2 linked regions of the Homo sapiens genome follow. The protein of the gene in region 1 interacts with the protein of each later gene in a pairwise test. Each region holds a gene or a part of one and is shown in the gene's direction. Other genes may lie near its edges. The genes, in order: SAXO2 and FHL2.

What was found.
Region 2: the proteins of SAXO2 (region 1) and FHL2 interact in binary tests that used the Homo sapiens proteins (3 or more experiments, as listed by UniProt).

The regions. Positions count from the first base shown.
Region 1 is NC_000015.10:82,282,512-82,285,642, forward strand, and holds the end of SAXO2 (stabilizer of axonemal microtubules 2), read left to right. Parts: coding exon 1-551; 3' UTR 552-2,416; downstream 2,417-3,131.
Region 2 is NC_000002.12:105,371,552-105,375,377, reverse strand, and holds part of FHL2 (four and a half LIM domains protein 2), read left to right. Parts: intron 1-1,644; coding exon 1,645-1,819; intron 1,820-3,826. UniProt on the Homo sapiens protein: May function as a molecular transmitter linking various signaling pathways to transcriptional regulation. Negatively regulates the transcriptional repressor E4F1 and may function in cell growth.

The DNA.
Region 1 (3,131 bases):
CTGAATTCCGTGAAAGTTTTCAACCATGGGAAATCCCACCACCTGAGGTCAAGAAAGTACCAGAGTATGTGCCTCCTACAGGTAGCATGCTGTTAAACAGCACAAGCCATCTTGACTATGTTCCATATCAGGCCAACCATGTTGTTCCCATCAGGCCAGTTTCTCAAAAAAGAAGTAACAATTTTCCTTTCCAAGGAAAAAGCATCATGAAAGAAGATTTTCCAGCATGGGAAAGTTGTCGTCAAGGACTTATTAAGAAGCAGCAGCAGATTCCCAACCCATCTGGAAAATTTGATGGTTTGAGCACTTTCAGATCTCACTATGTGCCACATGAATTGATCCCAACAGAGAGTTGCAAACCTTTAAATATTGCTTTTAAGAGTTCTGTTCCATTTGATGATGTAACCATGTACTCTGTAGAGTACACACCGAAAAGACAGGAAATTTGCCCAGCCAGCTATCCCTCTCCTCCAGGTTATATTTTCGACAATACAAATTCCCAAGGTCATAAATTCTTCCGCAAGATTATTCCTGCAGTGAAGGCCTTCTAATAACCAAAATGTGCTTAAAAGGAAGGTACTAGCAAGTTGTTGTTTTTCCAAGAGAAAACTCAATTTTTATAGTTAAAAAATTTATGATATAATAAATCATTTTTTATATTTTTAAACAAGAAAATTGGAAAATATATTATAAGAAATCAGAATCTTAAAACCATTTTTTATTGATATTTTAATCAAGATTGTTCTTTAATGTGCATTTCAGAAGGTTGAATAATATGCATTCCCATGAGAACTATTTTAGTATTCAACATACTGCTTAGTAGCTTGTCCCCAGTCTATTATCATTTGTAATTCTGTTTATAATTATGGCAATTGTATGGTTATTCACATACCATTTGTCATTTATCAAGCACATCAGGATTATCTAGAACAACATTGAAAATGATACATGGATTCCTCTTCCAAGGCAACAGGATTCATTATACTCAGACTTCACGGCATCTACATAGCATCCACTGAATCAAGTTTTGGTTGGTGGTATACAGACTGCTGCACTGCTCCTCACCATGTTCAAGTTAGCAAGAGGCACTGTGGTGTGGCAAGGAAAGGCTCTGTGTGCTGGGAATCGAAGGACTTGAGTTCAAGTTCTGACTAATAATTATTATTATTTTTAGAGACAGGGTCTCACTGTCACCCGTGCTGGAGTCCAGTGGCATAATCACAGCTTACTGCAGCCTCAGCCTCCTGAGCTCAAGTGATCCTCCTGCCTCAGCCTCCCAAATAGCTGGGACTACAAGGGTGTGCCACCACACCTGGCTATTTTTTTTAAACATACTTTGTAGAGACAGGTTCTTGCTGTATTAGTCAGGCTGTTCAATCTATTGGCCAGGCTGCTATTGAATCCCACCTTGGCTTCCCAAAGCACTGGGATTACAGGCATGAGCCACTATACCCAACCTGAGTTTAAGTTCTAATAATATAGATTTCTATTTGTACTACCTTAGGCAGTGACTCATATCTCTGAGCCTCAGTGTCTTTATTTGTAAAATGATGTCTGTTCTCAAAAAGAGTTTGTTTTGAGCATCAGACTGTATGGTACATTTTAATCCTTAAAGTACAAATGTGGAGGATTTTTTTTTAAAATTGCTCAATCTCTTTTTGTACTTGTTTTCTCCTTTTCAAATTAGGATAATTACTTACTCAATGCTCATTTTCTGGCCTGTAGCAAGGATTGTAAAATAACCTAATTTGCTTTGAGCTTATGAGTAGTATATACTTCTGAGAGGAGTCTTGTCCTTTAAAACTTCATGAGCACCTGAGAAATTCTTAACAGAGAATGGAAAGCTTGGAATGGGGTAAATACAGTGGTTTGAATAACAGTATTTGCAGAAAGGAAAAAGTATTATTTGCTAGGGTAGTTTTAGGAAGACTGACAGCTCTGAAGAAATCTTTAGGGTAAATGTAGGTAATTTTGCACCTAATTGCCAGGCCAAGTCACTGTTTAGAGGAAGAACCAGCCCCAGCAGGGGGCATAATCACCTGGTTCACCTCTTCCGGTGTGAAGATAAGTGATAAGGTAAAGAATGATGCCAGTAAGTATAGTAGAAACACTCTATTGCATTTATAAATGCTAAAAATTTCCGAATGAATTAAACTCTTATTGGGTGGTTTCTTTTTTTAAAAAAATTAAATAATTGCATTATGGGAGAATATGATTTATTTTAGCATAAAGTGAATTTTAGTCTTTTATGGCTTCAGAATTATTTCAAAATATACTTTATTGAAAATCAATATTTGGTTATTTTAATTGTTCAAAAGTAATTTGTTCTTTACATTTATTAGTAAAAGTATGGTGTGTGAAACTATATTTCCATGCAACATAATAAAATCAATAAAAGGAATGGATTTTCAAGAAATCATTTCTTTACCTAATTTTTTTTAAGAGAGCATTTTAATAAAGTCCTGTCTAGGTTAACCTATACATAAGTAGATGTTCTTACTTTTTAAATACAAAACAATGTAATCAGAATTAAAAAGAAGGGAATACTACAGCACTCTGTCATCCCGTCCCATATTCCAATGCTGGATATTCAAATCACTCTGTAATTTAATAGGGGTGGTCTCCTCCCTGGACAAAGGTCACCCTTAATAAGACATCTACTAGAGTTTCCAGAGGCAATTTGCCATGGGATAAGGATTGAAGATGAATAATGGCGTTTCCCCATAATCTAACACTCAGTATAACAGGTGTGAAAATAGAGATTGAAACAGAGAACAATGTAAGACATTCAGCCTAGGAGTTCAGGAAAGTCTGCCTTAGGGAGAGGATGGACAGGTGAGCTGAATCTTGGAAGATAAGTAGGAAATTGCCAGATCAAGAAAAATGGGAAGGTGGGAACAGCATAAAAATAGGTACAGAGGGACCCTCTATCTCTGTGAAAGAGTTAAAGGGACTTCCAAGCTACGTTGGTGGAAAGCTAGCAATCCCTGAGTCATTCTCCTGTTAGGCCTCCTTGAAATACTATGTGGAAACACACACAAAAAACATTTTAACAGGGCTGGAAACTAGTAATATTACTTAGCAATCTGCCAGATTCTAGAAGGAATTTCCACTATGCTAAACTTGGATAA
Region 2 (3,826 bases), on another chromosome or scaffold:
AGATGTTCTAGGAAGCAAACTTCCAACAGGGATAGCACAAGAGGTCACCCCTCACAAAGGCCATAGTCATGACTGTCTTCAAAGTGTCTCAGCGTTCACATTTTTAAAATTCCTTGAACTAAAACAAAATGCGCAAAGAGATCACTAAATCAAATAACTAGTTTGGTTCCAGGTTCCGGGAAAACACACATACATGCACACATGTGCACACGCACGCGCACACACACACACACACACACACACATACTTCAGCAAAAGAGAACTGTTTGTTCTAGTTTTGGTTCCGAGTTAGCTGGTGTTTTAGGACTTTCTAATCAAGGCCAAGATCCATGTCTTCACATCCTACATTCAGCATAACTCCAGCTTCGACTTCGGTTTCAGTAACAGAGACATCGTGGGCAGGCTCTTCTTCAGGGCCATCGCGTGAACAGCCCTCCTGTGCCCTGTTCAGGATACCTACCAACTGGAAGCCTGCCCAGGAAACCGTGCAGAGCCTAATACTCTGTTTCTGCCTCATGTATAAATGGATGATGATTTGGGGTCAGAGCTGGGAACACAAAGACAGCAATAGAAACATATCCTTTCTAAGATAAAGCTGGGCATAAAGAGATTGTTATTTTAATTTTGTGTTGGCACTTTAAAAATGCCGTATGTCATTTTTAAAAGGCAAATATGGAGGGTTCTCTTATTCCTCAGGCAAGATGAAGCCAAGTGTGGAGTCGAGTTTTCTGCGGGGCTCCTTTCTCTCCCTCATCTTTTACTCAAAAGCACACGTCTGTCTTCTCAGGGCCTCTCTCATGTGTGCTCAGTTTTTGTCTCACTTCTCCCACCCTCACGCCCCTCCACTCCCACATCCTTACCCGTCCCCCAGTCTGAGCACTTCACTCTCCTGTTGAAAAGCAGCTGTCCACTGCCTTCAGGATCAATGGAATCTCTACACAGACATAAAAGGCAAAAAGGCAGCCATATCTTCCAGTCCAGCCAGGCCGGGGGGCCCTCCCACCTCGCCCCTGGCCTGTGGTCCCTCCAATCTGACATGCCCCCCGTCCCCAGATCTTCTGTGTCTGTGCTCTTTCTCTGCCTGAAATTCCCTTCCTCCCCCAGCTCACGGCCACCCACAGAGGTAGCACCCACACACACAGTCTCTCCTGACCGTCTCCCACCAAACAGTCCTTGGGCCTCCTGTGAACATCCCGACACCCAGAGCCTCTCTGCCATGCCGGTGACCACAGTGATCTGAGTTGGGCAGGGCTCCCTCAGCCAAGGATGTCCTGCAGTCTGTTTCTCTGTCACCGGATGTGGTGTGAGACGAATTGATAGGTGTTCATGTTTTCTGTTTCTCTTTCTTGCAGGCAATACATAAGGGAAATCCCTTTGTTTTTTAGAAGCATCTCTCACACACAGACATGTGCATACATGCACATCTGTCTAACCTGTTGCTCTAAAATGCAGCAAGAGAAAAGCAGCCTAGTCTTAATTGATTTCAGCAGTTAGGTGGTCCTGGGGCATGAATGTGGGTGCGCCAGGGTGCCTCGGCCCAACTTCTTTCCTTGTTTGCCCTGCAGATTCGCAAGGGGCCCCTATGCTGTGGGTCCAAGCCCTCCTGTCCTGCCTCTGACTGTCTTGTGTGGTCTGGCCCCACAGGACTTGTCTTACAAGGACCGGCACTGGCATGAAGCCTGTTTCCACTGCTCGCAGTGCAGAAACTCACTGGTGGACAAGCCCTTTGCTGCCAAGGAGGACCAGCTGCTCTGTACAGACTGCTATTCCAACGAGTACTCATCCAAGTGCCAGGAATGCAAGAAGACCATCATGCCAGGTCAGGAGGCACTCCTTTCTCATGCGTGAGCCAGTCTAGCTTCAAGCCTTGTGCACGTTCCTCTGACCCCCTGTTCACATTGACTTGGTTCCAGACACTCGTGTTGACTTTCCAGTTTGACCTTGAACTGCAGAGGAGTATTTAGAGTACTTACGAAGCAGGGACATACAGGTTCTATCATGGGCAGTAACGGGATCTTTTTGCTGTGCACGTGGGGCAGTGTTATGCAGTCAAATTGTTAGAGTAAGAAAATGGTGGGTATCCCCCTTAAAAATACATCTCCTGCATCAGCCCCCACTCTCCCACCACCATAGATAGTTTCTCTTTTCTTCCCTTCTACCTGCTGAATTTGTACTCATTCAGTTATTTCACCAAGTGTGCATGGTGCCCTTGCGTGCCAGGCACTGGGCTCGAGCTGAGCATTCGTAGGGTGTGAGCCGAGGTGCACCTGGTCCTCTGCCCTTGTAGAGTTGGTGTTCTAGACGGACAGTCAAAAAGGGCACAGCCGCAACTGGGCCAGGTGCCGAGGATGGCAATAAAGGTGCCTTGTGTGTTGATGGGACTGTGTCCCTCATGGTTTTTTTGTGTGTGTATGTGGGGGGAGTTATTTGTTTTGTTTTGTTTTTTATGTAGGAGAGCAGAATCTTTTATTTTAAAAAGCAAAGTGGACAAAAATATGTGGAATTTCAAAATACAGAAAGAAGCTGGGTGCGGTGGCTTATACCTGTAATTCCAGTACTTTGGGAGGCTGAGGTGGGTGGATCACTTGAGGTCAGGAGTTTGAAATCGGCCTGGCCAATGTGGTTCAGTGGTGCAATCTTGACTCACTGCAACCTCTGCCTCCCAGGTTCAAGAGATTCTTCTGCCTTAGCCTCCTAAGTAGCTGAGACTACAGGCGTGCACCACCACACCTGGCTAATTTTTGTATTTTTAGTAGAGATGGGGTTTCATCATGTTGGTTTGCTTTGTTTTTGATAATAAAGAAATACTGAAGAGACTGACATATGGGAAATAGTTTAGAAATATATGTAGGATGCCAGGTGTGGTGGCTCACCCCTGTAATCCCAGCACTTTGCAAGGCTAAGGAGGGCGGATCACGAGGTCAGGAGTTTGAGACCAGCCAGGCTAACATGGTAAAACGCTGTCTCTACTAAAAATACAAAAAATTAGCCGGGCATAGTGGCGGGCGTCTGTAGTCCCAGCTACTCGGGAGGCTGAGGCAGGAGAATGGCCTGAACCCAGGAGATGGAGCTTGCAGTGAGCTGAGATCACGCCACTGCACTCCAGCCTGGGTGACAGAGTGAGACTCCGTCTCAAAAAAAAAAGAAAGTTATGTAGGATAAGGAATAATCATTTTTTAAAAAGGCAAGGAGGTAATCTGACCTTTGGTAAGATGGTTTCTTACTGCCACTACATTTCTCTGGTTAATATAACTTTAAAACAACTGTGACACACTATGACAGGGAAGAAAAATGCCCAGGCTGACACAGTCCCAGCCCTGTTGGCAGCTGTAAGGGAAAACAGCTGGAAGGGCTGCATGGTGACTTTAGATGGGGCAGCTCCAGGCAAGAAGGCCTCTTCTAAGATCATGTGGATCCTGCAGAGGCTGGAAACTCGGGCCCCAGTGCTGTGCGACAGTGCAAATGAGAATTGAAGCCCGTAGAAAGCCAGGCTGACCTGTGTCCTGCCCCACAGGGAGTCACTGCAGAGACACAACACTCAGTAACAATAAGAACCACGACATTAATTGAAAAACAAATTAAACCCTTACTAGTTTCCTGAACAAGGGCCCAAGGAAGCTTCCACTGGGGACTCTAGGGGCTGTTTAAAGACTTTAACTGTTAGCACCAACCATGACATAAAAAGTATGCATATTTCCCGGATTTTGAATTTTTCACCTGTCTTGACTTTCTGTGTTAGTCACGTTCTCCAGAGAAACAGAATCAATCAAGGAAATGTATACACATAGATACATACATAAGGAGAGAGAGAGAGAGAGAGAGAGAG